Regions from separate parts of the Homo sapiens genome. Here regions 1, 2, 4, 5, 6 and 7 are each linked to region 3. The links come from fine-mapping of genetic effects on gene expression. A gene starts in region 3. Each other region holds a variant in brackets. All regions are shown on one strand. Distances are between the middles of the regions. Region 1 overlaps ACOX3 (acyl-CoA oxidase 3, pristanoyl). Region 2 overlaps ACOX3 (acyl-CoA oxidase 3, pristanoyl). Region 3 holds the start of ACOX3 (acyl-CoA oxidase 3, pristanoyl). Region 4 overlaps ACOX3 (acyl-CoA oxidase 3, pristanoyl). Region 5 has its middle 34 kb from the start of LINC02517. Region 6 has its middle 63 kb from the start of GPR78. Region 7 has its middle 61 kb from the start of TRMT44.

Evidence for each region. PIP is the estimated chance that this variant, and not a neighbour inherited with it, causes the effect.
Region 1: its variant is the best candidate, but not a certain one, in a credible set for the expression of ACOX3 in testis (GTEx, PIP 0.78).
Region 2: its variant is the best candidate, but not a certain one, in a credible set for the expression of ACOX3 in monocytes (TOPMed, PIP 0.89).
Region 4: its variant is the best candidate, but not a certain one, in a credible set for the expression of ACOX3 in whole blood (INTERVAL, PIP 0.82).
Region 5: its variant is the best candidate, but not a certain one, in a credible set for the expression of ACOX3 in sigmoid colon (GTEx, PIP 0.68).
Region 6: its variant is the best candidate, but not a certain one, in a credible set for the expression of ACOX3 in whole blood (TOPMed, PIP 0.52).
Region 7: its variant is the best candidate, but not a certain one, in a credible set for the expression of ACOX3 in whole blood (TOPMed, PIP 0.63).

The regions. Positions count from the first base shown.
Region 1 is chr4:8,390,960-8,395,030 of GRCh38, reverse strand. It overlaps ACOX3 (acyl-CoA oxidase 3, pristanoyl), which reads left to right. Exons shown (of 18, transcript NM_003501.3): 10 at 289-411; 11 at 2,578-2,698. It also overlaps the pseudogene RNA5SP152. Among named protein-coding and RNA genes, the nearest start is that of ACOX3, 48 kb to the left of the region's middle. RefSeq lists enhancers at 1-865, 1,596-2,401. The variant TTTC/C (reference allele first, on the strand shown) is at 1,880.
Region 2 is chr4:8,367,205-8,371,279 of GRCh38, reverse strand. It overlaps ACOX3 (acyl-CoA oxidase 3, pristanoyl), which reads left to right. Exons shown (of 18, transcript NM_003501.3): 17 at 286-372. Among named protein-coding and RNA genes, the nearest start is that of LINC02517, 49 kb to the right of the region's middle. The variant T/A (reference allele first, on the strand shown) is at 2,340.
Region 3 is chr4:8,439,129-8,443,128 of GRCh38, reverse strand. ACOX3 (acyl-CoA oxidase 3, pristanoyl) reads left to right here and starts at 2,406. Exons shown (of 18, transcript NM_003501.3): 1 at 2,406-2,481. It overlaps TRMT44 (tRNA methyltransferase 44 homolog), which reads right to left and starts at 2,352. Exons shown (of 11, transcript NM_152544.3): 1 at 1,688-2,352. The coding sequence starts at 2,306. RefSeq lists silencers at 1,939-1,998, 2,049-2,258 and enhancers at 1,727-2,460, 2,279-2,518.
Region 4 is chr4:8,418,305-8,422,377 of GRCh38, reverse strand. The region is part of intron 1 of ACOX3 (acyl-CoA oxidase 3, pristanoyl); the gene reads left to right. Among named protein-coding and RNA genes, the nearest start is that of ACOX3, 20 kb to the left of the region's middle. RefSeq lists an enhancer at 2,834-2,883. The variant A/G (reference allele first, on the strand shown) is at 2,332.
Region 5 is chr4:8,352,090-8,356,164 of GRCh38, reverse strand. It overlaps a transcript of ACOX3 not described here. Among named protein-coding and RNA genes, the nearest start is that of LINC02517, 34 kb to the right of the region's middle. RefSeq lists an enhancer at 2,326-2,876. The variant C/T (reference allele first, on the strand shown) is at 2,206.
Region 6 is chr4:8,515,170-8,519,244 of GRCh38, reverse strand. It overlaps a transcript of TRMT44 not described here. Among named protein-coding and RNA genes, the nearest start is that of GPR78, 63 kb to the left of the region's middle. The variant T/G (reference allele first, on the strand shown) is at 2,502.
Region 7 is chr4:8,499,550-8,503,624 of GRCh38, reverse strand. It overlaps a transcript of TRMT44 not described here. Among named protein-coding and RNA genes, the nearest start is that of TRMT44, 61 kb to the right of the region's middle. The variant T/C (reference allele first, on the strand shown) is at 2,071.

The DNA.
Region 1 (4,071 bases), 48 kb after region 3:
CACTTTGTTCTGTAGTGACTTTGATGGGACAGCTGTGAATAGCGGCCATTTAGCGAATTGCGTTTGAGCTTGTCTGTCAAGGGCTATGGGTGAAAGCCGAACTGGCTGAGTTGAGAGCGTGTCAGGGTGAAGGCTTTCTGATGTGCCGGGAAGACATGTGAAGACCTTCAGCGCTAGTGGGTGTGTGGCCCTGACGGCCTCTCCCTGCACTGGCTTTCATGGTCCCTGGGATGGGCTGCCCTTCATGGGAACCACGATGTGTTCACGCAGGTGTCTTGTCTGTTCTAGCAATGGCGCTTGCTTCCATATCTGGCAGCTGTCTACGCCTTAGACCATTTCTCCAAGTCGCTCTTCCTGGACCTGGTGGAGCTCCAGCGAGGACTTGCATCGGGAGACCGCAGCGCCAGACAGGTGAGGTGGTGTCTGCTTCCTCAGCAGCATCGTTTAAATCTCACACGGTTGGAGCAGCATAGATTCAACCTTCATTTCAAAGCAAAATCAGTCCTTTGATTTGCGAGGACAGAGCATTCCTCCAGTTGTTCCCACCCACTCGGAGCTCTTGGCCTCTGCCGCGATTGAACGGGCTGGGCACGCGTCCACACCCCTGCCTCTCAAGGATGTGCTGACACGACTCCCGGTTCCAGTCTGTGAGTTCAGCTGTTGGTCTCCTTTTGAGAACATGACGGTTTTGCAAAATCCACGTTACCCGCCCCTCAGTGGATTTCATGGTTCTGAGCCTTTTGTAAACAGCTGCACAAAGGTCTGAATCCCACTGACTGGATTTGAGTTGACAGTCAGAGGATTTGTGCCAGAAACGAGCGTGCAAATCCCGAGATCAGCCTCGGCATAAAGAGACATCGGGAACGGATTTCTTTGTAGATGATTATGAACTGATTTTCCATTGTCCCTCCTGCTGCCTCCTGAGCAAGAGTGAAATGTGAATCAAAAGAAATAACCGTGTTTGAAAGCAGAGGAGAAACGCCACAGATTGCTGTTATGTACAACATCAGAAAAAGCCTGTATCTAATTAGCATATCTTGAAATATTATCGGTGTCCACATTCACGGCAGATGATGGCGAAGGGATGACCTGCAGGATTGATGGCAGAGCAAACCCCAGGCCTGGAGGCCTGAGGAGGGAGCGCTTCTGACCACTAAAGGGGTTAAGCCTGTGTTTTCCCTGGAGCGTGAGTCAGTGGAGCTTTTGCCAGCTGACACTTGCATTGTTCTCCTGTGAATAATGTTGTAAAGGGTGACCAGGCTGATTCTTTCTGAAACTCAGTGGTTTAACCCAGGCAGAGGAGGGCCTCAGCTCAGCCCCTTATGTGAAGTTGAAAACACTCATAAAATGGGTCACTGGACTTAGCATGCGTGTGTGTGTGTGTGTGTGTGTGCGTGTGTGTGTGTGTGTGTGTGCGTGTGTGTGTCTTCCTCTTAATTGTTTTTCCTTTTTAATTGTCTTTCTTTTTTAAAATTAAAAATTCTTCTTTTACTCTGAATCAGTCTCTTAAGTTTTTGTTTGTTTGTTTGTTTGTTTGTTTTTGAGACGGAGTCTCGCTCTGTTGCCCAGGCTGGAGTGCAGTGGTGCGATCTTGGCTCACTGCAATTTCTGCCTCCTGGGTTCAAGCAATTCTCTTGCCTCAGCCTCCCAGACTAGCTGGGACTACAGGTGCCCGCCACCACACCTGGCTAATTTTTTTTATTTTTCAGTAGAGACAGGGTGTCACCATGTTGCCCAGGCTGTTCTCAGACTCCTGAGCTCAACTGATCTGCCCGCCTCGGCCTCTCAAAGTGCTGGCATTATAGGCGTGAGCCACTGTGCCTGGCCCAGCCTCTTAAGTTTTCATCATTAGATATCAAGCAGAAGCAAAGGAGTCTTC[TTTC/C]TTTTTTTTTTCCCCTTAAAAAAAAGCCTGCAGCACCTGCTATTCCCAGGCGGTCTCCCATCCAAATACTAACCACGCCCGACCCTGCTTAGCTTCACGAGATCAGGCTCATTCAGGGTAGTTTGGCCATGGACAGCAAAGGAGTCTCAATAAAACATGTTAGGCCTGAGGGAGGCACGGTGAGCCCCCACACAGAGCAGACCATCAGTTACCGAGGCGCTTGCAGCCTTCTGGGAATGGACTGGTCCCGGCCCTTCCCTGTCCTGGGAGCGAGCACTGTCTGCGGTGCTGAGTCTGGTTCCCTGGCCTTTCTTCATGGTTTCGCTGCAAACAATTGCAACCTTCCATGGTGTGTCATTCACTTTGACGTTTGTGAACTTTATATAAAGTGGGCCATGACGCACATTCTTCTGCAGTTTGCTTCTGGGACCCGTGTTAGGGCCCTGAGAGCTATTTGCTGTGTAGAGCTGTGTTTTCATTGTTGTGAAATGGTATGAGCGTACCACAGTGTATCCATACTTGGATAAAGACCCTTTTTTATTTCTAATTACAATTAGGTTTCCTCTTCTGTCATTTTCGGGATGTCTTGTATTAGACTAGAGGTGATATGGTGGTTTGATGCTATTGCTGACTTATGACTTTTTGGTGTCTAAAGTCTCTTTTCACCTGTTCTTGTTGGATTCCCTCACCCAAAGGCAGAGCTTGGACGTGAGATCCACGCCCTGGCATCGGCCAGCAAGCCCCTGGCCTCGTGGACCACCCAGCAAGGAATTCAGGAATGCCGGGAGGCGTGTGGAGGACACGGCTATCTGGCCAGTAGGTTTTGGAGAAGCGCATGGTGGTTTCCTGTCCTTAGCCCTGCTGTTTGACTCTAGACCAGGGGTCGGCAGACTGCGGCCTGAGGACCAAATCCAGCCTGCCACCTGTTTTTGCAAATAAAGTTTTATTGGAACACAGCCAGCCACCCCCGTTCATTTGCACATTTCCTGCAGCTGTTTTCGCACTGCAAGGGCAGAGATGAGTAATCGCAGCTGTGACAGAGACCATGTGGCTTACAGAGCTGAAAATATTTACTCTCTGGTCCATTGCAGAACAAGTTTGCCAACCCCTGCCCTAGATAGATCCCACTGCTTTCAGATGCCTGATGCTTCTTGGCCAAAATATAGGCAGAGAGCAGCTGATCTGCTCATTTGAATTTTAACTATTTGGTTAACAGCTTGGTAGTAAACTAGCACCATGTTTTGTTTGAATAGAAAATTCTTACACTTAGATAAAGAGTTAGTTATATCGGCATTGATGATGACTGAGGCAGCTGTTATATGGTTAAGAGCGGAGGCCACCAGCTTGCCTGGGATTGAGTCCTGGCTCCATCTAACAGCCTGGTAACTGTGGGCAGGTTGCTTAACCTCACTGTGCTCAGTTTTCTTATTTTTAAAGTGGGGGTGATAATAGTGTACCCACAACATAGGTTCTTGCCAGAATTAAGTGAATTACCACGTATGAAGTGTAAGCATGGTATCTGGCATGTAGTGCGTGCCCAATGACTTTTTTATTTGCTAATGCTGTTATTATTAGAATTATCATCAGCATTATTTACAGCTTACCTGCAAAACTTCCCGTGTGCTAATCTTAAATAATTAACTGGCAAAAACTGGTTGCTCAAAGAAGGCCATGTACACACTCAAAACAGCCACAGCATCAGCAAAACTCTCTTGCCCTCCAGGAGCACTTGGTCCTTGCCAAGTTTGTGAGAGTTTTTGTGATGCTCTATCTAGAACTACACACACACTTTCAGCGATCATCCGCCCACCACTGCAGTTCTAACTCGCACCTGTTCCAGCATGGGCTGTTAGCAACGTGGCCCCTCACTCCCACCACAATCTGTCTTTGTCACTTACTGACATGCGGGTAGCCATGGCTGTACACAAGTTACTCATTTGCATGCTTTGTCCTCTGCGCAATGCCCTTAGTAGTTTTTGTCTTTGTAACTCATCGGGATTCTATAAATAGTTGAATAAGGAAATTGAATCTTGCAGTACTGCAGACAACAAAGATGATGGAATCAAGATTAATCATATACATATACATATACATATACATATACATATACATATACACATACATATACATATACACATACATATACATATGCTGGGATTGAGACCAATATGACCGAGGCTCCATCTAGG
Region 2 (4,075 bases), 72 kb after region 3:
ACGAGCTTCAGGGTCGTCACTTTTAAGGGCCTTTTCTACCTTGTTGGGAAGAAACAAGCCCTAGAAGTCCTGAGTGAAAAGCAGCATGGTGAGAACATTCCAGTGCACAGCAAGGGCCTCGAATCCAGGCCGGTGAAGAGATCACGCATGGGCAGCAGAGCCGCACGTGCCGCTCAGGTGACCCGTTGCTAGTGGGTCCTGGCAACCACACACGGGGCTGTTATGCTTTGGTCACCATGGAAATTCCCGGGAGGTGCCAAGTGTCTGGGCTTTGTTTTCCAACAGCTGAAAGACGATGCAGTTGCCCTGGTAGACGTGATCGCTCCTCCTGACTTTGTTCTGGACTCACCGATTGGCAGAGCCGACGGCGAGGTAAAGGGAGGACAGGGCCTCACGGGAGTGCCCCAAGGGTTGATGGGCATTTCTGCGGAGCTGAGATGCTCCTGTGGGTCAGGGGTCTGGTGTCTTCTGGAAAGTGGTCACACATGGAGGAGCTTCTTGGGGAGGGCCCGGGACAAGTCAGGACTGTCTCACTCTGGTGCTTCCCCATGCTGGCTCTGTGGTTGCAGGGGACTTGCCCATCCCCTGCCTGCCTTTTCCTCCCGAGATGGGGTGGTGGCACTGCCCGCCTGCACAGGCAGAGGTTGGAGGTCCACACACTGTGACCTCTGCCCTCCTCCCACTCCCCCCGGCCTCCCCGGTCCCAGGTCTTACCCCCATCTGACCATGCTCCTGGCCCTGCAGGCCTCTTCCCCCATCCCTGTCCTGGAATCCCCAGGCCCCTCTGTCCCCTCTGACCATCCATGGTTGTCACCGGGGTTACTCTCCCCTGCCCCGCTTTCCCCCAACCGCCTCCCTGTGGCTCCTCAGCTCTCCTCCTGCCCCCCATGTTCCATAATGATTCCTTCATAGCAGATGGGGTCAGGCCGCCCCCCTGAGGGAGCCTCCACCAGCCTCCTCGACTGCCTGCCACGCCCCAGCCCCACACAGCCACTGAATCCTTCCAAGGCCCTTCACCCCACGCTCCCCTCCTGCCCACCAGATCTAGCCTTACTGGCCTCCCCGTCTGTCGCGCCAGGCCCATGCCCACCCCAGGGCCTTGTGCCTGCTGCTCGGGCTGCCTGGAGTGCCTTCCATTCTTTCAGTATAAGCTGACTATTGCTGCCTTGGAGAGGCCTTCTCTGGCCTCCAGCTGAGGCAGTGCCCCCAGGCACTGTAGTGCTGCCCTTGCTGGCCTCATCACTGACCTTGTGTCTCCCTCCCACCTGATGATGCCCTCGAGGAGCGATGCTCACAGGTCCACTGGGTGCCTTCCAGCACCCCACTGCTTATGGGGCTGTGTCTGTCTTCTGCTAGAGGGACTCGGCGTGTCAATGCTCATGTCCCATGCCTGAGGTCCCCTGGCTGTGAGTCACAGAGGGGTTTGACCCCATCCCTGCCCCCTGGCCCCGCAACTGAGTTATTTCTGCTGAAGCACCTGCTGAAGCACCTGGGTCTCTGCCCAAATGGAGATTGAGCCTTAGTGGGCAGGACCCTCCCTCAGTCCTCAGGGAATGCTGAAGTCTGTACATGAGCCCTTACCGGCTTAGCCAGGGAGGGCCCAGCGCCTGGCCTCAGCGCGGCCCAGGCTACACCTGGGTTGGGCTAGGTGTGCCAAGAGGCAGGTAGTGCCAGGAGCCGGGTGGGCAGGGCAGGAGGTGAGAGTTCCCCGTAGTAGGAGAGGCAGGGATGGTCATCTCTGCAGAGGGCCTGCTGTCCTGCATCGGGGACTGACCACTGACCATCCCCAGAGCCCATACAGCCCAGATGATGACTGCCGCTGAGAGCTGAGAGCCAGAGAAGCCCAGTGGGTTTCCCAGCCAGGGAGTGGCAGAGCCAGGATTTGAAGAGACTGTGCCCTGCTGTAGGGAGAGAAGACTTGGCGGGAGCCTTGGGTCCTGGGGGAGCGCATAGGAGAGGGACTTGCCCTACCCACCTTCCTGGGAGAGGCAGTCTCCCCAGGAGGTGGGGGCTCACCAGGCAGACAGGCATTCGAAGGGACACTGGAGCCAGACCCGCCATGGAGGACCCCCAAGCACACGGGACTGTCTGCCCCGTGCAGGAGAAGCCGGAGCGGCCTTGAGCGTCTACCTGCTGTGCCTTGCTCTGCAGAGGCAGGCCCGTCTCTGAGGCAGGGAACGACCAAGGAAAGGAGAGACCTTGCCCATGATGGAGGGGCCCCCTGGCTCTGGGTTCCATAGTTAAAACCAGAGCCAGCTGGAGGTGTCGCTGGCAGGATGGTTTATTAAACGTGCATTCCTGGCTGAGCATGGTGGCTCACACCTGTTATCCTAGCACTT[T/A]GGAAGGCTGAGGCGGGCGGATCCCTTTAGCCCAGGAGTTTGAGACCAGCCTAGGCAACATACTGAAACCCCATCCATAAAAATTACAAAAACTGAGGTGAGAGGATCCCCTGAGCTTGGGGAGGTCGAGGCTGTGGTGGGCAGTGATCGCGCCACTGCACTCCAGCCTGGCCAACAGGGTGAGACCTCATCTCAAAAAAAAAAAAAAAAGTGCATTCCTTCCAGTTGCAAGGAACTGGTGTATTAACCAGGAGCTGCCAGGTGAGAAATTCACTATAAGCGAACAAACAGAGCTGCAGGGGAGTTGAGACCATCCTTAAATCAAGCCCGCTGCTCCAAACTGTGAAACATAAGCTGGAACCTAGGCCCTGTGGAGCAGCAGCCTGGGTCTGTGTCTGTGGAGCCCAGAGTAGCAGAGTGGGGAGGAGGGGTTGCTAAGTGCATTTAGCGGGTGCAGGCAGAGGGGTTTCTTCTCAATAAAATGGGTCAGCGTAAGCTGGATACACAATAGACCACCTCCCCAGGCCCTGGAGATGGTCTGGGCTGCCCCTTTCCACCCTGCACGGGTGAAGTGTCTGCTCAGCTGCCCTTCGCCCTTCATTTGTACAACCTTCCTCCAAGACAGGAGCGTCTCTCCCCATCTTCCCAGTGAGGCCACTTAGGCTGAGAGCAGTGAAGTCTGCACCTCCCGTAGGGGAGTGCTGGCCCGGGGCAGGACCAGAGGAGCAGGGTGTGGTGGCCCAGGTCCAGAAATCAGCCAGTAAGGGCCACTCGGCGAGGGCATCCTGCTGCTGGTGGCCACGTGCCACCTGTGCGGCCTGTAGCGGCCTGGGGTGTGAGAGCAGATTTCAGAGCAGCAGTCGATGCAGCCTTGCAGCATCCTGCGGTGGCTGCAGTTACTAAGAAACAGCGTGTCCACTGCCACGATCAGTTCTTTTTTTTTTTTTTTGAGATAGGATCTCACTCTGTCACCCAGGCTGGGGTGCAGTGGCATAATCTCGGCCCACTGCAGCCTCAACCTCCTGGGCTCAAGTGATCCTCCCACCTCAGCCTCCCAAGTAGCTAGAACTACAGGTGAACTCCTCCATGCCCAGTTAATTTTTTGCTTTTTTTTTTTTTTTTTTTTTTTTTTTTGTAAAGATGGGGTTTCGCCGTGTTGCCCAGGCTGGTCTCAAGCTCCTGAGCTCCAGTGATCTGCCTTCCTCAGCCTCCCAGAGTGCAGGGATTACAGGAACGAGCCACCTCACCCAGCCAATAATTTCCAAAGAAGAGGGCGAGGGGTGATTTTCATTATAAATGTGTTTTATAGTACTTTATAATTGAATTGTCCTAATTGTTTTCTACTAGAAAAAAAAAGAAAATATTCATATAAATTTAAACCATTTTAAAATTTCTCTAAAAAGTGACAGAGAATTTCCTGTGCTTTTTTGTTATTGTTGTTGTTGTTTGTTTGTTTTGAGACGGAGTTTTGCTCTTGTTGCCCAGGCTGGAGTGCAGTGGTGCAATCTCGGCTCACTGAAACCTCTACCTCCCAGGTTCAAGTGATTCTCCTGCCTCAGCCTTCCGAGTAGCTGGGATTACAGGCATGCACCACCACACCTGGCTAATTTTGAATTTTTTTTTAGTAGAGATGGGGTTTCTCCATGTTGGTCAGGCTGATCTAAAACTCCCGACCTCAGGTGATCTGCCTACCTCGGCCTCCCAAAATGCTGGGATTACGGGCGTGAGCCACTGTG
Region 3 (4,000 bases):
AGTCTTACAAAGGCACAGAGGCAGACAGTATTGGGAGCCATCAGAGGGGACTATGTACCTCCCAGCAATTGCTGCCTGAGGTAGGCAGAAGAGCCTCCCAAAAGTGTCCATGCCGTAATACCCAGGACTCGTGAATATACTGTATTATATGGCAAAAGGGGCACTTGCAAACATGATTATGGTTACAGACCTCAAGAGGAAGAGTACTCTGGATTATCCAGGTGAGCCCGGCCTAACTCCATGGGCCACGAAGAGCAGAGAATTTTCTCTGGCTGGAGGCGGAGGAGAGAAGCAGCAGGAGAGGAAGGCAGAGAGATTCCAAGTATGAGAAGAATTCAACCCCATTGCTGGCTCTGAGATGTAGGAAGCTGCATGAAAGAACCAGAAAGAAGCCTCCAGCAACTGACAGCCAGCAAGGGAACAAGGACCCCAGTCCTACATAAAAAATTGGATTCTACCAACGAACTGAATGAGCCTGAGAACAGATTCCTTCCCAGAACCTCCAAATAAGAGCCCAGCCGGCAGGCTGTTTGATTTTGGCCTCGTGAGAGAGACCCACAGCGGAGAAACCAGCAGAGCCAATGGGGATTCCTAACCTACAGAACTGAGACAATCAATTTTTTGTACTGACCAATGAATTTGCAGTAATTTGTTACAGTGGCAATACGAAACACATGCTGCTGAATAAAGTTTCAGGTAAGAGTGGCTGAGGCTGAAGTGTCAAGGTCACGGGCAGTAAAAATAAATGCCAGAGATTTAACGAACGCTGAGGACTAGTAGGTTCCCATCCATCCAGTCTCTATGCTCTTTCACAGTTATTTGTCTCAGCATAAATAGCTCTCTTTATGTTGGGGAAAAGGCTTATGGCATGCCTGTATAAACTGGCCATAAAAATATGAGACAATAAGTTGTGGAAAGCCACAAGAGGCCTCTGAGGAGGAAAGCCTTCTTATTGTCATGATGTTCCCATGCTCTGGGCGAGACCTACTGTCTTACCTATAAACACTGTGTTCAAGGAGAAAGACACTCCTTTGAATCACTACAATGTGGTCAGACATGCAGGCTCCTAGTTAAGCACGCTCCCACTGGTTATTCTCCGACAAGTTAAAGATAACGCTGTTTGAGCACAAAGGAGATTCATTTAAACCGCCACTGCTATAGATGACATGTATGATGCACTGTCTCCCTTTCACCCTTTCGCCCCGAACGTCCGCTTCTTAGATCTAAGTGATTGTACTCAATAGTGTGGAGACCAGAGCTCCCAGGCTTTGGCAGCCTCCATTTTGCAATTGGCCCCCTGGCCCCCAATCTTTATGCACTCTTAACCTGTCTCGTCTCATTCCTTCGTCGCCACCGGACTTTGAGTACCCTACGGGTGGTGTTGAGGCTGGTCCCCAACACTTTTACACCTACAGCTTTACCTGCTAAACTCCTAGGTATTACGCAATATCCAGCTAGTCCTTCACTGTCTCTTTGAAGCCTTCCAGACACCACCCCAATCAATTATCCCATCTTCTGTACTAAGGACACACATTTCTATGCGCCCACTCAAAAAACTATGAAACACCTAACAACCTCCCTAGGACATCGCAGAGGAACTAGTACCCTTAGGACTTTTTCATTGACCCGAGGTTCTATGAATGCTTTTTTATCTAATCATATCCGTCCACTATCAAAACACTCTTACCTTGCACGACTATTTCCCTCCTGGGAGTTGTAAGGGGGCAATGTGGGCTAGTTTTCGGGATGACGGTTCTGAGAACCACGTCGAGCTCACGCTGCGCCTCTGGCTGCGATCCCGCCCCGGAGCTGGTGAGGAAGGCCAGCAACTCCGAATTGCCACGGGCGAGACTTTGGGAGAAATCCTCCCAAAGCGAATCCAGATCTGCGGCGGGGAAGTCGCCCTCCCTTCCTTCAGCATGGCCGGGGTGCCCGGAGTCCCTCAGGGGCACTGAGGCGGCTTCCCTCTGTGCCTCCTCTTGCTGGCACTGGCCCTGGGCCTCCTCAAGTTCGCAACATGCCGTGCCCTGCTCGGGTCCTGATAGCGACCTGGGACCCGGGCCCCCTCCGGGGGAACCCTGGCCGGGTCCCGGACCCCGCTCCTTCTGCTCCGAGCCTGCGCTAGTCCCGGGGCCGCGGGCCTCCGCGCAGGGCAGGGCGGCGCTCCAGCGGGCCTCCAGGCGGGCGCCGCAAAGCCGTTTGTTTGCCACCTGCGGCCTCTCCAGCCACACTTCGACCGCAGCCCAGAAGCCCTGTGGGAGAAGCGCGCCTGGGTAGCTGATCCCGGTACGGCCCACCTCAGCCATGGCAGCCAGCAGGTGTACAGCCCTGGCAGCGGCGCGCCGAGATGACGCAGCCCGGTGGCGCGGCGCGTTGACGTCATGGAGGCGGGGTGCTGGGACCGGAAATGAGAATGGCGCCGCTGGAGATCCTTTCCTGCTTTTGGTTTCCCTGGCAGGGGTTGAACTGTGGAGTGTGTGGGTGAGGAATTTGACCTGTGTTTTATTCCCTTTTGAGAGAATTCTGGGCGTGGTATAGTTACAGAATCAAACATCAGCCAGCCAGCGGGTGTGGAACGCATTGTCCTCAGTACTGATTACCGATAAAAGTCAGGGAGCCTAAGTTTGTGAACGTAAAAGATGAGTCCTCTTATGAAAGCTAACTTTTCTCCACTTGGGTTCTGGTTTGCTTTTAGTGCTGGCATTACAGCCAGTGCCTTCCTAAGTCTGAGTGCAGCCATGGCTGTTTCATAAGAATGATGTAACGTTGTCCCATGAGGGATGAAAGTCATCTGTCACCTACTGTAGCAGGACAAGCCACAGACAAAACTCCTCAGACACCGGATTAAAGAAGAAAGAGGTTTATTCGGCCGGGAGCATCGGCAGACTTGCGTCTTAAGAGCTGAGCTCCCCAAAAAAGAAATTCTTGGCCTGTTTAAAGGCTTACGACTTTAAGGGTCCACGTGAAAGGGTCGTGATAAATTGAGCAAGCATGGGAAACGTGACTGGGGGCTACATGAATCAGCTAACAGAACAGAAAGTTTTGCAATGCTTTTTTCATACAATGTCTGGAATTTACAGATAACACAAGTAGTTTAGGTCGGGGGTTGATGTTATTATTATTATTTTTTTTAACTCCTAGGGCCACGTGGTGGTGCCAAGGTTGTCTGGCTATTTATCTGACTTTTGTTTCTTTCTAACTTTTTGCTTTCTCTCTTTTCCTCCTGTCTTATGAACTAGGCAAGGTGGCAGGGAGGAGGGCAGCAGGAGTAGTAGTGGTCTCCTTATCCCTTCCTTTGAGAATTTTCACAAATTAGTGGGAGTTCTCGCTTTTATTTTTACTTTGAGTCTCTTTGGGAGACAGAGTGATAGTGTTTTATGTAATACACTTGCAGTGAGGGTTTTAAATTCTCTTATAGCTGGAAACTATCTTTTAAATAAAGACCTAGGATCAAACCTGTGTTAAACCAGTACAGGCACATGTGCCAACTTTGTCATGTCCTAAGCAGGTTAGTTTTTTTACTGGGTCTTAAAAGCTTTTTTCCTAGCAAGCAACACAGTATTTCTTAATAATAGGAGTTTTTAAGAGCCAAATGCTTGAACTTGGCATCTGCTTGGGGAAAGAGTTAAAGTAATCTTGAGGCATTAAATCTTTTGCTTCTCAAGGCCATTGGTCTCTCATGTTAGCCTTTTTATAAACATAACATGAAGAAACGTCTAGGCTGCTGGCAATGTTTTCAGCCAGCTGAGCAAATAGGTTGTTTGTTTGTTTTGCTAAAGGAGGAGGCTCTTGTAACTTCTGGTTTATGTGTTTAAAGAATGACTTAAAGACTCGGAATTGTTGCTGGGCTGGACGGGTCTGGGTTTCCTGACTAAGTAGTATGTGTACAATGGGGACACCTTATATAGGTGTTTCTTCTAGCATGGTTATGGGGGGTAACAATAACAAAACAATATACAGCATATTTGTATCCAGCAAGGACAAAAGAGGTCCTTACCTG
Region 4 (4,073 bases), 21 kb after region 3:
AGTGGTATTGGAGTGTTATAGGGTCATAGAGAAGACCTTCAATTATCAATTATAGGTTTTAAATTTACCCTGGCTTTTAAAGGAATAGGGTACACTGTTTTTTTCTTAACTACTTATATATCTCTCTCTTTCTTTCTCTCTTTGACTGTCTCTCTCTTTCTCTTTGACTTTCTGCCTTTCTTCCCCCCTCTCTCTTTCTTTCTCTCTCTTCTCTCTCTCTTTCCTTTCTCTCTCTGTTTCTCTTTCCCTCTCATTCTCTCTCTTGATAGATGGATTTTGGGAACACAGCGGAAGAATGTTCGCTCGTTGCCCCCATTTGCCTCTATAGGAATATGCGCCTCCCTTTAATTTACTCAATTCGCTTTCTTCCTGATCTATTCTGTTGTCGTAGACACAGTTCCAGTTGTTAAAGTACTGGGTCATCAATTCTAAGGCCCTGGCCAAGGAGTCTAGGCTTAGAGATTGTATTGCAGTGGGGGAGGTAAGCTGGGTAGAAATTGGGGGAGGAGAGCATCTTACACAATGGGAGAGCAATCCTCCTAGCCATTTACAAACTTGGGGCCCTGGCAAGGGTGGTAGGTCCCACATAACTTCCCATGTCGAGAGCTGTATATCTAAATTGGGAGGGACACCAGGGACAAGACTCCCTGGGTTCATACCCTAGGTGCTTAAGGACACAGCGTAGAGCTTCCTTAGATCCCTTTGGAGATACAACTTGCTCTAATACTTGGGAGAGGAAGTGAGTCTGAAGCATTAGTACCTAGGAGGCAGGGATCAGAGGAAGTAGATTCAGAGGTAAGGAGAATTTTGGGGCTACACTTTCAAGAAAGTCATGGTTAGGACCCAGGAGGTATGGGCCAGAAGGAGAGATAGGGGTGCACGCATGGGCAACTGTTGAGTAGAGACTTCTGGCTGCGCCATGATCTTGACCGGCCAATGCCGGGAATTTGGGACGACAGCTTTCTGCCTCTAGTCAGCCCTCTGCTTCCCCAAGAAAACTGTAAAAGTGGAAGCTGGTTCCAGGCAGACCAATGCTCCCAACCCAAAAGGGTTGGGGATTGTTAGAAAGCCTTTTCCCAGAAAGCCTCACACCTGAGTCTTAAGTCCGGTGGCCACATTAATCATTTTTAACCAGCCAACAGGTGCCCAGTATTTTCCTCCAATTCTAAGGAAGGGTAGGACAGAATAGCAAGTGAAAGTGGTTCAATATTACTCACCGCTTTGGAGAATCCCCATACGAGCCCAGCAAATGTTACCGATGAGTGTTTGCTCCCAGAGCTCCCAAGATGGTGGTGGGCCGCTTCCAAAATGGCAGCAAACCTCTTGCTCTCTGACCTGGGGTTCTTGGCCTCACGGATTCCAAGGAATGGAACCTTGGGCCATGCGGTGAGTGTTATAGCTCTATTAGAAGCCGTGGGTCATGGAAGAGAACTGTGGAACCCAGGGACTAGTGTTCAGCTCAATTAGGACGAACCCAGGCACTTAGCCATGCAGGAACAATGGTGAGCCTCTAGCCCGATTGGGAGCAGCAATGGGTGCCTCACTGGATCAGAAGCTCAGTGGACACCCTGCTGGATCCGGAGGGGTGGAAGTCAGTGGTGGGTCTGCGATGGCGATGATCAGCAGTGGTGGACAGCAAGTGATAGCTCAGCTCGAGCTGGAACAAACATGGACCAGAAGAGTGTGCAGTTGCAAGATTTAATAGAGTGAAAACAGAGCTCCCATTCAACGGGGGGGTACCCAAAGGGCGTTGCCTGATCTGGCTCGAATGCCTGGGTTTATATCCTGATCATTGTGCCTCCCCCTGTGCTCTCAGGGGATAGGTGATTTAATTATTTCTTTACCTCCTGTTTTTAGCCTAATTGGTATTTTAGTGAGCTCTCTTTACTACCTGATTGGTCTGGTGTGAGCTGAGTTACAAGCCCCATGTTTAAAGGTGGGTGTGGTCACCTTCCCCAGCTAGGCTTAGGAATTCTTAGTCAGCCTTGGAAATCCAGCTAGTCCTGTCTCTCAGCATCACTGTATTATCACCCCCAAGGTGCACAGATCTTAGGAAGGTCACCCAGCTAGAAAGCTGTAACATTGAGATTTGAACCCAGACAGTCTGGCTTCACAATCCTTATCTCTAACAGTTGTACCATAATGCAGTAAGGTTGGTGACTTCAAGTGGCATGGGCCCATAGGTACTTGTTAGGATCTGGGGATTTGGAGCCAGCTGTGCTTGATAATAGTTGTATGACCATGGTCAATGTCTCTAAGAAGCTCCAGTTTCCTCACCTGGAAAAGGAGACTACTGATAGTACTTGGGCTTGGTGGGCACAGTTGAGGTCT[A/G]TGTAGCTGCTTAACACAGTCACCTGCACACAGCACCAGCTCAGTAACTGGAGGTTGTTATGAGGGTTTTATCAGGCTGGAGAGAAATGAGAAGATTCCGTAAGGTGTTAGAGATGCACTGTGGACTTGGTAATGTACTGAGGTTATGGCGCATGGAGAGGGGAATTCCAACATGACACTGGGGTTTGTAATTCCAGTAATCCTTGGGTGACTGGCAGTGTGGAACTGGGGTGCAGGAGGCGAAGCTGGGTCAGGGCTGAGAGGCTGAATTCAGTGTTGAACACTCAGTATGGGCATCTCCAGAACATGAGAGGTGGGGAATTGCCGTTGACTGCCAAATGAGCTCACGAGTCTGGAGGTGTGAATCGGGGAGCCTTGCACACATTGAGGACGTGATGTTTTCGGTTCTCTTGCGTACATACCTCAGAGTGGAATTGCTGAGTCATGTGGTCACTCCATGTTTAATCACTTGTGGAACTGCCACACTGTTCTCCAGAATGGCTGGGTCACTTTACATTTTCACTGGAAGGGCATGAGAGTCTGATTTCTCCACATCCTCTCAATACTTGTGATTATTTTTCTGTTTCTTTTTTCTTTTTTTCTTTTTTTTTTTGAGACAGAGTTTCACTCTGTCACCCAGGCTGGAGTGCAGTGGCGCAATCTAGGCTACTGCAATCTCTGCCTCCCGGGTTTAAGTAATTCTCTGCCTCAGCCTCCCAAGTAGCTGGGACTATAGGCACCTGCCACCATGCCCGGCTAATTTTTTTGTATTTTTAGTAGAGATGAGGTTTCACCATGTTGGCCAGGCTGGTCTTGAATTCCTGACCTCATGATCCACCTGTCTGGGCCTCCCAAAGTGCTGGGATTACAGGCATGAGCCACTGCGCCTGGCCTATTTATCTGGTTCTTTAAGAGATAAGGTCTTGCTGTATCACCCAGGCTGGTCTCAAACTCCTGGGCTCAAGCTGTCCTCCTGCCTTAGCCTCCCCAGAGTAGCTGGGACCACAGGCACGTGCCACTATAGCCGGCATTTAGTATTTTAGTATCTTTTTGCTCATTGCCATCCTAGTGGATGTGAAGTGGTCTCTCATTGGGTTTTTGGTTTGCATTTTCCTGGTGGCTAATGATGTTGACCATATTTTTCTGTGTTTTTGTTGTTGTTGTTGTTTGTTTGTTTTGTTTTCTTTGAGACCGAGTTTCATTCTTGTTGCCCAGGCTAGAGTGCAATGGCACAATCTCAGCTCACTGCAGCCTCTGCCTCCCGGTTCAACCGATTCTCCTGCCTCAGCCTCCTGAGCATCTGGGATTACAAGCATGCGCCACCATGCCCAGCTAATTTTTGTATTTTCAGTAGCGATGGGGTTTCACCGTGTTGGCCAGGCTGGTCTCAAACTCCTGACCTCAGGTGATCCGCCCGTCTCGGCCTCCCAAAGGGATTACAGGTGTGAGCGTGCCTGGCCTTTCCTGTATTTTTTGGCCATTTGTCTGTCTTTGGAGAAATGTCTATTTGAACCCTTTGCCCATTTTTTAATTGGTTTTTTGTCATTTTATTATTGAGTCTTAAGAATTTTTTTTTTTTTTTTTTTTTGAGATGGAGTCTCGCTCTGTCACCCAGGCTGGAATGCAGTGGTGCAATCTTGGTTCACTGCAACTTCTGTCTCCCAGGTTCAAGCGATTCTCCTGCCTCAGCCTCCTGAGTAGCTGGGATTACAGCCATGTGCCACCATGCCTGGCACATATAA
Region 5 (4,075 bases), 87 kb after region 3:
TGGCGTTAAAACGGGTTAATGCATGAAAGCAACAAAGCCCGGCCTGCAGACAGCACATGGTAAGTCTCCTCTTCCCAGCATGTTCAACAGGAAGCCCTCATTCCCTCTAGAATGTAGGAGTCTTGCCAGCAGTGGCCTGTTTGTTCTCTGCCTGTTGCCGACCTGATGAGAACATAAAATTGGTGTCTTCTGTATAGATTTCCTTCTTATTGCCCCTACTGTGGCTGAACATACCTTCCCCCGTGCTTGAAGTCTGTTCATATATGTTCTGCTGTGATAACTGCCCATTCTTGTTCTCTATCTAAGAAGGCATTTAGTTTTGAAAATATTTTGTTGGCTTGTAAGATATTTGTACATATTAAGCACAGCAAACCTGTAACATATTCACTGTAAATCATTATTCCTCATGCATCATTTGCCATTTAACTGTATTTTTTTCCTTTTTGATGTAACCTGCTATAGTTTACATTTTTAAATCAGAAATGCCTGCACATTTTAAAACGAAGACTCTTATGCTCTAGCCTTTGAGGTCATGCTTGGAAAGTCCTTTCTCACACAAAGATTATTTACACTTTCATCTCTTTTTCTCTGAGTACGTTTCAGTGTTTAATTGACCAGGAATGTATTTCGAGGTGTGATATGAGACAAGGATCTGAAATGCTTTGCCCACTGAATCATCATGCACTGACCGAAATGCCACCTGTATGAGTGCTAAAATCATTGTCGCTGGACCTGTGTCTGCACTGTTTAATTTTAGTGTTGTTTCTCACATCAGCTTCTGTTGTTTTCATGGTTGTGGTTCTCATACTTTTAATATCTGTTGGAGCAAATAAAGCCTCGTTTCTCATCTTTTCCAAAAATGTCTTATGTATGTGAACTTTGGTGTTATTTGTCAAGTCTGGGCATTCTCCCACCCCCATATTAAAGAATGCTCTCTGGAGTTTGTCTGGAGGTTTTGTTTAACTTTTAGATTCACATCAGGAGAATCTTTGTCTTCATGGTAAGTGGTCTTCCCATCTAAGACTATTTCTTCAAGCTGTTTGTAATAAAAAGCTGTGTGATTTTTGTATGTTTATTTTGGTCACCTTATTGAAACCTTATTTTAATTATGACAGTTTTTCATTGATTCTCTTTGGTTTTCCTTCTCTATCATTGGCAAATAGTGATGGTTTACCCTTACCCTTCTGATATAGTTTGGCTGTGTCCCCACCCAAATCTCATCTTGAACTGTAGTTCCCATAATCCCCACGAGTCATGGAAGGGACCTGGTGGGAGGTAATTGAATCACGGGGTAGTTACCTCCATGCTGTTCTTGTGATGGTGAGTGAGTTCTCATGAGATCTGATGGTTTTATAAGGGGCATTCCTCCTTTTAATTGGCACTTCTCCTTCCTGCCGTCATGTGAAAACGGACGTGTTTCCTTCCCCTTCCGCCATGACTGTAAGTTTCCTGAGGCCTCCCCAGCCATGCTAAACTGTGAGTCAATTAAACCTCTTTCCTTTATAAACTACCCAGTCTTGGGCAGTTCTTTATAGTAGCGTGAGAACGGACTAATACACCTTCCAAAACTTTTACCCGTCATTTAACTTTCCTGTCTAATGACATCTGCTGGCCCTGCGGGATCAATCTTTCACACCATGCTGGGGAACCATTGCTTGGTGTCTGCCATTATGGGAATGCCTTCAGCCTTCGTATTAGTTTGATGCCATGTGGACGGTGGACTGGAAAGACAGTCTTGCTTGGCAGTGGACACAAGTGTGTGCCCATGGTTGTGCCCGTGGCCAGAAATCTCTGTGACTCACCAAGGGAGATGCCTGCAGAATGAGAGAAGTTTCTCACTGTGAGCTTAAACACAGAGGGAGCTTCCTGCGGCTACACGGGGCCAGCTGGGATGCATGCCTGCAGAGACATCTCAAAACCACAGGCGGATGAAGAAGATAAAAATCAGCCAGACCCCATCATCTGTGAAAGCCCAGAAATATCTTGGGGTTGAGGTCTTTGCGGCTGTCACTGCTAAGGATCTTGATGGTGGCGGAGGCGTGGGAACTCTTTCATTTTAGGATGTGTAGTTGACATGGAGCAGCCTCTTGGAAACTTGGTTTGGATGCACTTCTGACGGCTCAGCCCAAGCGTGAATCACGTTCCCCCATCATTGTGTATCCACCCCACCCTCCAGGTTTTAGGTGGTTCCAGCCCCTGGGCTGC[C/T]GGCCAGCAGGGAGTGTCCATCTGACCAGCATTTAGTGAACACCTAGCTACACGTAGCACTGTGTGGGGACAGCATGTGCCATAGGACCACCTCCTCGTCACCAGAAACTGCCTTCCTCCTTGACTTTGTTCATGTGGGCCTTTTACTAAGACACTTCACAGGCTTTTCATGGGTCCCATGGGGCCGTGTCCCCATCTGAAGCATGCCCCAGCCATGGGTCCCCTGGAAGTCAGGGGGTCTTGGCTTCTCTCCTTGTGTGGTGGACCCTGTGGGCTTCCTGTCCAACTTCCAACCCTTCCTCCTCACTAACAGAACCCCAGTTCTGTCCAGATTTCTCCCCAGATGTGGACAGCCCCAAGCCTTGGGAAGCTGCCCTGCCCCAGCACTGGCACTGGTTCGCCTTAGCTGAAGTGCCCTAGCACCTTCCATTCCCTTGGCCCCAAGGACTGGCTCAGTGATGAGGCAAAGTCCAAGGGTCCTGTTGAGTCTTAAAGACTGGCTGGGGACGTTGGGACAGAAGTGGCCTCTCACTTCCGGGGGACATTGCCCTGGACACTTAGGAGCTTCAGGTGGCCTCAGCCATGGTGCCACCACGATGAGACCAAAGCCACCCTATGGAGTGGGGCATGCCATGGGAATCACGGACCACAGTGGAAGCACAACTACAGGCCGTGACTGCAGGAGGACAGGGCCCTGGATGGACGACAACTCTTCCCTCTCTGGCTTGCAGTTCTCCTGCAGAACTGACCGAATGCAACACCCTGGAAAAAGGAGGAAATGACCCGAACAGCCCAGGGTGTGGCCTTGGTCCTCCCAGATAGGATACTCTGCAACACGTCTGCTCGGTGAGCCCAGTGGTGCCCAGGGTATAAAAACCAGGGCAGAGCACTTTTGGGTCCCTCTGCAGTGCAAGGTGGGCATGCACAGATGCGACTCCGTCCACCCTGGGTGGCTCTCCTGAGCCCTGGGGCCATGGCTCGAGTGGAGCCCAGGCTTCTGTTTGGACTTGCTGCCTGCCTGTGAGCATCCTGTCTCTCTGGACCAGACCTAGGAACCTTGGAGGTGGCCTTCCTGGTGTGGGAGCCGCCTCCTAATTGCTCGAGGCAGCTGGGCAGGGTGCGACAGACTTCTTGCACGGAGCCCCAGCATTGGCCACGGTGGGGACTGCTTGGCCCCACAGGCACGTGCAGAAGAACCCAGCTGGGGGGCTGTGGCCCTGCCGGAGCCTCTACTCTCCATGTGAGGAGGGGAAGATGCGCTCAGTCTCTGGCCTGGGCGGGCCTGTGCCGCATGTGCTGTGCCGTGGTCCCCGGCACTCTCGCCTTTGCATTCCCCTCTGGGGCCACTTGCTGTCATGCAGCTTACATCAGAGGGTTTCCCTTGGGCTCTGGGCTTTGATCCTAAATCTGGGAAGTCAGGGCCACTCTGCATGAGAACCCAGAAACCGGTGTTCCTGTGGCTTCCAGGAAGGCCCCACCCACCTGCACCCATTCAAGTGCAGGGACTGACCTCAGCTCATTTCCATCCCACCAGGCTGTCCAGCAGCCGCCCAGGAAGGGACTTGGTTTGCTTTGTGAAGCTTGGAGGAGGATGTCCCCAGCTCTGCAGTGGTCAGTGGGAGCCCCGTGTTGTGTTGTGAAGGGAAAATGTGCAGTGACTTGTGGAAGGACCTTCCTCCATTCACCCCCTCCATGTACACCCTTGCCTAGGAGATAGACGAGGAGGTTTGCTCAGTCCCGGGCGGCTCTGTGCCCAGCCACTGCACTGAGTTTGGAACAAGGTTTGCTCAACCTTTTATGTGGTTCACAAGCTCCATCTGAATTCTTTCAAGCAAGGAGGCCCACATTGTGCTGAACTGTTTGCTTTGCA
Region 6 (4,075 bases), 76 kb before region 3:
TGAGATAATACTGGGACAGAAAAGAAGATTTCGAGGCAAATGACACCCCATGCATGGCACATCCCACCCCACCTTCAGATGATCAGAGTCAGAGAGAATGGGAGAAAACATTAGATGAAGCTGCAGCTGCCTCTGTGTCTCCCCGCACCCCTGTCCATTTGACAGGGGCAGCCCAGGAGTCCCCATCACACCTCTGCTGGGCTGGTGCAGCTAGAAGAGGAGAGGCAGCTCCCAGAGGGGCTGTGAGCAGAGAAGGGCCTGTATCGAAGGCCATTCTTTTTTTTTTTTTTTTTGAGACAGAGTCTCACTCTGTCACCCAGGCTGGAGTGCAGTGGTGCGATCTCAACTCACTGCAAGCTCCGCCTCCCGGGTTCACGCCATTCTCCTGCCTCAGCCTCCTGAGTAGCTGGGACTACAGGCACCTGCCACCACACCCGGCTAATTTTTTGTATTTTTAGTAGAGATGGGGTTTCACCGTGTTAGCCAGGATGGTCTTGATTTCCTGACCTCGTGATCCGCCCACCTCGGCCTCCCAAAGTGCTGGGATTACAGGCGTGAGCCACCGCGCCCGGCCCGAAGGCTATTCTTGACCCAGGATGTGGGGACACCCTCTGACATTTCCCAGCCACCCCGCATGGTGAGGGCTCCTTTCTCATTTTGCATAAGGATGGCTAAGGTAAATTGCCTGATATTAGCTGGGGGCATGCGAGACCTGGTACCCAATTGTCCAGGCCAGAGCCCACACTCCCCAAATCCCAGCATCTTCACTGCTGCTTCTCTCTGGGGCAAAGAGAAGCCCAGCAGCTTCCCGCCCTCCCTTCTGCCCTAATGCCCAGCTGCAGCCTGCATGGCCAGAATCAGTTCCTTCTAGGAGTGCCGGCTCAGAGAAAGGTCACTTTCAGAATAGAGAGATTCTAGAATGCGCCTCAGTTCTTGGAAGTCACTTTTTCCTTCTCAGCCAAAAGAGCAAAAGCAGTTGCCCAGGCCCCCGCCCTCTCTTGTCCACGCCAGAAGTTTGTGCCTCGTGCAAACTCGAGAGAAATGGGCACCTCCCAGCCATGGCCTACTGCTGACGTGGCCTCAAGTCCGGGTCACCCCAGGGAGAAATGGGACCTTCCAGAGCTTGTGCAGGAAGAAGCTGGTCATGCCAAAGTGTCAGGCCCTGCCCCGGCCAGAGGGACTGGGCTCTGGCAGGCGTGCCTTTGCCGAGGGACTGGGTTCCGGCAGTCGTGCCTTTGGGGGCTCTCTGAGTGAGGGGCTGGAGGTGGAGCAGGAGAGGCCCTCGGCTGTGCTGGTGACCCTCTCATGCTGTCACTCAGCTCCAGGGGTATGCAGACCCCACAGGGCCCCACCCAAAGCTACCCCACTGGCCCCACTTCACACTCCCTCCCTGAAAGCCAGGAGGTGCCATCCGAGTGCCCACCCTGTGTAGGCAAGGACAGGAAGGGCCTAGCGCAGGTTACTCAGGTGCATGGGCAAGGCCGGGTACCAAGCCAGGTGTGTCTGACCCCAGAGCTGGTGCCTTCTCTCCTGCATGCCCTACCCTCCCCTGAGCCACAGCCTCATGGGGCCAAAGACAGACTTCTTGAAAGGGCATAACATCCAGCCAGTCATCAAGGTCAGGGGACTCAGGACAGCTAAGCTGGAAGGACCCTAGAGCCACGTGGCCTGTGTGCAGGTCTCAGATGAGGATTCAGGGGCCCAGAGAGGACACGACTCCCCCAGCCTCACACGGCAGGTTGAGGAACAGAGTCGGGACACACCTGCTGCCCCCTCCTGAACCCTGGAGACATCAAGCTCCCTACCAGATGACTGTTGCTTCCTCTGCCCCCCTCCCTCTTCTGCTCCCTGGCACTGAAAGAGGGGCAGGAAACTCAGGAGGGCCCTGTCTTGACGTGCCATGATCACCACTAGATACAAATGAATTTTTCAAATAAATTTCTGGATGAATCATTATACCAGGAAACCTTGAAAACTGCCTATTTCTCCTGGAGGCTTCTATCCTCTGTCTGGTCCAACAGCTGCCTGCAGTCTCCTTTCTTGAAAACTTGTAAATAATTCATTTGGCTGATGGGGCTGTTGACAACTATGCCAGTGCCTGCTGCAGCCCCAGCAGCTGGAACCCCAAGTCCAGCGAAGGCCTCTGGCTGTTAAAATCAGCACTGAGTCCTTAGCTCCTCTTTCAAGTCCATTCTCTCCCCAGACACTCATGAACTGGGCAATAGACCATGGCCCTCATGAGGCTCCATCTGCACACCAATCGTTCACTGGGGTTTCAAATCAGCCAGAAGAGATATCTGCAAGAAGCTTGTTCAGGTTACACTGTTACAAGGTTACATTGTTACAACCGTACATCATTGCCAAGGCCACATTGCTCATGAGAAGATGGGTGAAACTCTAACAACCCTCTCTGATGAGTTCTGGGCTGGTGATGGTGTTGTTTTTGTTGTTTTGTTTTTTGTTTTTTGAGACAGGGTCTTGCTCTGTTGCCCAGGCTGGAG[T/G]GCAATGGTGCGATCTTGGCTGACTGCAGCTTCAATCTCTTGGACTCAGACTCTTCTGCCTCAGCCTCCTGAGTAGCTGGGTCCACAGGCACACACCACCAAGCCCAGATAATTTTTTTTATTCTTGGTAGAAATGGAGTCTCACTATGTTGCCCAGGCTGGTCTTGAACTCCTGGCCTCAAGCCATCCTCCCACCTTGACCTCCGAAAGTGCTGAGATGACAGGCATGAGCCACTGCACCTAGCCTGGGCTGGGGTGAGGTTTTTCAGGGAATGGTGAAGGGTGAGGGGCTGGAGAATTAGGCTTGTTGATTGGTCAGGTCAGGGAAGGGAGATGAGTCATCAGTATCTGGGACCATGTTCTTGGGCGAGTCAGCTCCTCTGGGGTCCTCAGGACAGCTGGTGTCAGGAGTGTCCTTGGCACGCAGAGCCTGAAGGGGTATCTCAGGGGAAAACACGTTCCCAGTGCTCAGGCTGTCGTCTGCAGAGCAGTCGAGGGGGCGATGCTCTTGTGGCCGGGCCTGCGTGACTCTGGGGCCATAGCAGCAGATGGGCACAAGGTGGTGGGTTGGAGCGTGGCCACCCAGGGACGAGCACAGAGGGCGCCGCACTGAGTTCATTTTTGTTTTCCCCCCTCTATTCTTCCCTGGTTAATTTTATGAAGTTTACAGGGACGGTTTCAGACCCCCAGCGTACAGCTGGGCAGAACTTCCATCTTGTCGTGGGGGAGAGACCACGGACAACCATCTCACTCCCAGGAATGCAGGCGCTCAAAGGAGGGTGTCACAGAGAGGCGTGGAAAGCCTGGCGAGCTCTTCCAATATTTTCAGGCACTTCCCACTTCTTATTGGACTATAACAGACATGAAGAAGTACAGATGTCATCAGAGGACAGCTTGATGGACTTTCACCAAGTGGGCACAGCCCTGAACCAGCCCCATGTCACCCCGCACTGGGGAGGGAACGTTTGAGCGGAGGCTGAGGGCACTGGGAGTGAACTGTGTCAGTGCCTGGGGAACAATATTTGGGCAGAGGGACCAGCCTGCTCCTTGGTCAGGAGCACCCCAACCCCTAGCCCAGCCTCTGCTCCCTGCCCCGCCTCCTGCATGGCCCTCAGGCCATCCCAGGGGTCATATCCCCCTGAAAGCCTTTCCTGACTCACCCGACTCGGGTTGGGTAAGGCACTCCTCTGGGCTCCCACAGCCCTGGCCCTGCCCCTGGTGACACTTGCTGTTCCTCTGTCTCTGTTAGGCTGGGAGCAGCTTGGGAGCAAGGGCAGCATCTGCTCAGGAAATGCTGTGGATGCCAACTGCTCTCGTCATTCTATGGGCCTGCCGCAGGGGCAAAGCCAGGACAGCTGTTCACCGCTGCCCTTCGCTGGACCGTGAGTTCCCAGTGGTCAGCCCGAATCCTCCATGACCATTTCCTCTGAGCCTAGAACAGGACCCAGAACAAATTGGGTGGTAAATAAATAAGTGAAGCCAGGTGCATTGGCTCACACCTGTAATCCCAGCACTTTGGGAGGCCAAGGCGGGAGGATTGCTTGAGCTCAGGATTTCGAGACCAGCCTGGGCAG
Region 7 (4,075 bases), 60 kb before region 3:
TGCACCTTACTGGGTGCTGACTCTTTGCTGTGTTCTCTGAGGTATGTGGCCCAGGAGTTCCACCAAACCCTCCATCCGGGTGGCTGCCTGAGATCATTCTGCAGGCTGGGGCCACAACAGAGGCCACCTCTGGGACCGAGTGCTGTGTCCCTTGCTGGTGGGTGCATGGCCCTGTGCACACTGTCAGCCCAGTGTCCTCCACACCTGGGTCCGGATTCCCATGTGGGTGATTCTCTTGCTTTAGGCTGCTTCCCCGGGGCAGATGCTTGAGCCGGTCCGACTGCTGCAGCCACGGCCTAGGGTCTGCTGGGATAGAGTGCCACCCTTTCCGGGGCTGTAGGGGACAGCTTGCCTTGCAAGGTGAATGGAGTAGACCCTCAAGGGTGTGTGTGCAGAGCGGGAGAACACCCCTAAATGCGGCTCCTGCAGCCTGGGGAAGGGGTCGGGTTTCTTTGGCTGAGAATTGTCCAGGAACCCCTGCCAAGTCCAAGTCCTCCCTCTACAGATAATGAAGCAGAGACCCAGTGGGAAAGCAGCCCAGGGTCACAGCCAGAAACCAAACCTTGGCCTCTGCCTCTCATGTGGGAGGTGAGGGGTGGGGAACGCCCCCTCAACCCATGACATTACCTCATCCCGATGGTATTCAAGCCTGTGCTGAGTCTGTGTGTGCCTGTGTCTGTTGTGTGTTCAAGGGTGAAGAAGAAGTGGTCTTGGGCCAATCCAGAGAGTGGTGGGCAGACCCTGTAGTGGCCCATGTTCCCCACCTCCTGGCACTGACACCTTTGATTAATCTCCCCTGAGTGTAAGCGGGATCTGGGAGCTGGGACCTGGGACCTGCGTCTCACCAATAGCATCCACCAAGGCAATGGCACTGCTTCCTTGACAGCCTTGCATAAGATCATAACTGGTTGTGCTGCTGTGTGTGAGCTGGCCCTGGGAGAGGGCCTGTGGCCAGGAAAAATCAACCCCACTTTGCCAAAGAGGAAACTGAGGCACAACAAGTCTCTGGCCAACAGCCAGCAAGGAATCGAATACTGCCAACATCCTGGTGAGTGTGGATGCAGAGCCTGCCCCAGCTGAGCCTCGGCTGAGACCAACGCCCTGGCTGGTACCGTGATTGCAGCCTGATGTGACCGTGAGCAGGGAACCTTGCTAAGCTGCACTCACACTTCAGACCCACTGCACCATGAGCTAAATATGTGTCCTTGAAACCACTAAGTTCGTTGTAGTTTTTTAAGCAGCTGAAGATTAGAAATATTCAGAAGCTTCCTCTCCCTCCACCTGACCCCCTGCTTCATCAGAGGATTGCAGATGTGGTCAACAAACACCAACAGGAAGAAGGCAGGGCAGGGTGTCTATTTCATGGCGGCTGCCTGTCCCGAGGACCATTCCCATGGATGCACTCAGGGCAGTTTCTGGAGTCATTCCTGGCAGAGTATTCTGAAAACACACCCATTAACCTTCAGGGCTGATATCAACAGGAGCCCCCGTTTTATGGGTCAGAACCATTTTGGAGAATGTCACGTTATGACTCACAGAACCAAATTTATTCTCCCTCTTTGAACAAAACAATCAATAGCCCTTCTGTAAAATTCAGCTGCTGCTCAGAGGACCAGTTGTCTGTCTCCTCCTGGGAGAGGAGTTACTTCCCCAGGGACCCGGGAAGAGGCGGGAAGCCAGCTGTCCCCAGAGTGGCACCAGTCTTCTCAACAGAGAGATGTGGGCAGGGGTCAGGACCAAGAGCAACTTCTGGAACCTTCCAGGCAGCCTTCTGGTTTTTGGATGGAGAGGCTGGGGCCCAGAAAGGACAGGGGCTGCTGAGCTCACAGCCGATGGCAGCAGAGCCCTTGAGACTCCAGTCACTGAGGGCCCCAACTGAGCACCTCCCAGCTAGCTCCCCATAAGAAGAAAGAAGGGAAGAAGGGGAAAGGAAAAGGGAAAGGGGCAAAGAGGGAGAGGAAGAGTCCAAAAACATCTCAAATAGCAAAGGAATGTCCCGTCTGCCGGAGCCTGGTGAGAAGGCCCTTGTGTGAAATCGCTAACCCTCACTGAGTTCTCACAGTGGCCAAG[T/C]GCCCGCTAAAGCTGTTAGGCTCCAAATGTACTCAACCTTCTCAACAATCCTCTGCCAAGATTATCCTCATCCCCATTTTTCCCAGGAGGAAACTGAGGCACAGGAAGTTGAGTGACTTCCCCAAGGTTGCAAGTTTTTGAGGCAGAGCTGGAATTTGAACCCAGGACATCCGGTCCCAGAGCTCATGCTGCTATTAATAGCAGCAGCCTACATACCATCTCTCAGACTTCGAACTGCAGGGGCCAACTGGGGGTGGGGTCTCTCCTGCCCCACATCCCCCGATGGACCAGGGGTCCCCTCAGGCCACCTGCCAGCTCCACCACAGGCCACCTCCCGCCCTGCACATGCACAAGCCATCACCTCTGCTGTCACTCTATCCCCAGCACATGGAATTGCCGGCCATGCAGTAGGCACTCAATTGGATCCACTGAGCAGTGGCACGACCACCTGCCCCACAGCTGGGGGCCTGGCAGGGCTGCATCCGGGTTTCTGGCCCAGGGCAGAGCTCCCTCATACAGTGCTTCCCAAGCGTTCTCACCCCCACACTGAGGAAGTGGTTCTATCTATGGGTGCTACAGCACAGGGTGGGGGTCCCAGCATCACAGGAAACACACCTGTCTTCCCAGCACCTTGGGAGGCCAAGGAGGGCAGATCCCTTCAGGCCAGGAGTTCAAGAACAGCCTGGTCAACATGGTGAAACCTCCGTCTCTACTAAAAATACAAAATAATTTAGCTGGGCATGTTGGTGCACACCTGTAATCCCAGCTACTCGGGAGGCTGAGGCACAAGGATTGCTTGAACCCAGGAGGTGGAAGTTGTAGTGAATCAAGGTCAACGCCACTGCACTCCAGGCTGGGCAACAGAGTGAGACTCTGCCTCAAAAAAAAAAAAAAAGTAAACAGTGCCTGCCAGACACTTGTGAAAGGTGGCAAGACTGGCTTCATTCAGACCCCTGGAGTGGGGAAGAGGTTCCAGGACACACTGAGCTGAGTCTCAGCTAAGACTAAGGGGACTAGGGCTTTTAATTTATTTTATTTTATTTATTTATTTATTTTTTCCAGAGGGAGTCTCGCTCTGTTGCCCAGGCTGGAGTGCAGTGGCATTATCTTGGCTCACAGCAACCTCTGCCTCCCAGGTTCAACCGATTCTCTCTTATGCCTCAGCCTCCTGAGTAGCTGCGATTATGGGTGCACGTCACTAAGCCCAGCTAATTTTTGCATTTTTAGTAGAGATAGGGTTACACGATATTGGCCAGGCTGGTCTCGAACTCCTGACCTCAGGTGATCCACCCGCCTCAGCCTCCTGAAGTGCAGGGATTATAGGCATGAGCCACCGCACCCAGCTGTTTTTATTTTTTTAGAGACAGAGTCTCACTTCATTGCCCAGGCTGGAACTCCTAGGCTCAAGCAGTCCTCCCTGCCTCAGCCTCCAGAGTAGCTAGGACTACAGGCACATGCCACCACTCCCAGCTAATTTTTAATTTTTTTCATAGAAACAGGGTCTTGCTATGTTGCCCAGGCTGGATTTGAACTTCTGAACTCAAGCAATCGTCCTGCCTTGGCCTCCCGAAGTGATGGGATTACAGGCATGAGCCACTGCGCCCATAGGCTGAGAGCTCTCTCTCTATTTTGGCTTTTATTTCTTGTTCAAGGGTACATGTGCAGGTTTGTTATATAGTAAACTCCTGACTCAGGAGTTCAGGGTGCAGATTGTTTCATCACCCGGGTACTCAGTGTAGCATCTGACAGTTTTGTGTTTTCTTCTGAACCCGTCCCTCCTCCCAACCTCCTCCCTCAAGTAGGTCCCCATGTCTGTGATCCCCCTCTTTCTGCCCACTGTTCTCATTATTTAGTTCCCACTTATAGATGAGAACACACGGTATTTAGTTTATTGTTGGTTTCATCTTTGGTGGTGGTGGTGAAAGAGGCATGACACTAAATCGACCCTCAGGACACACTAAATCGACCCTCAGGACACTCCCCTCCCTCCCCACCCCACACGCCC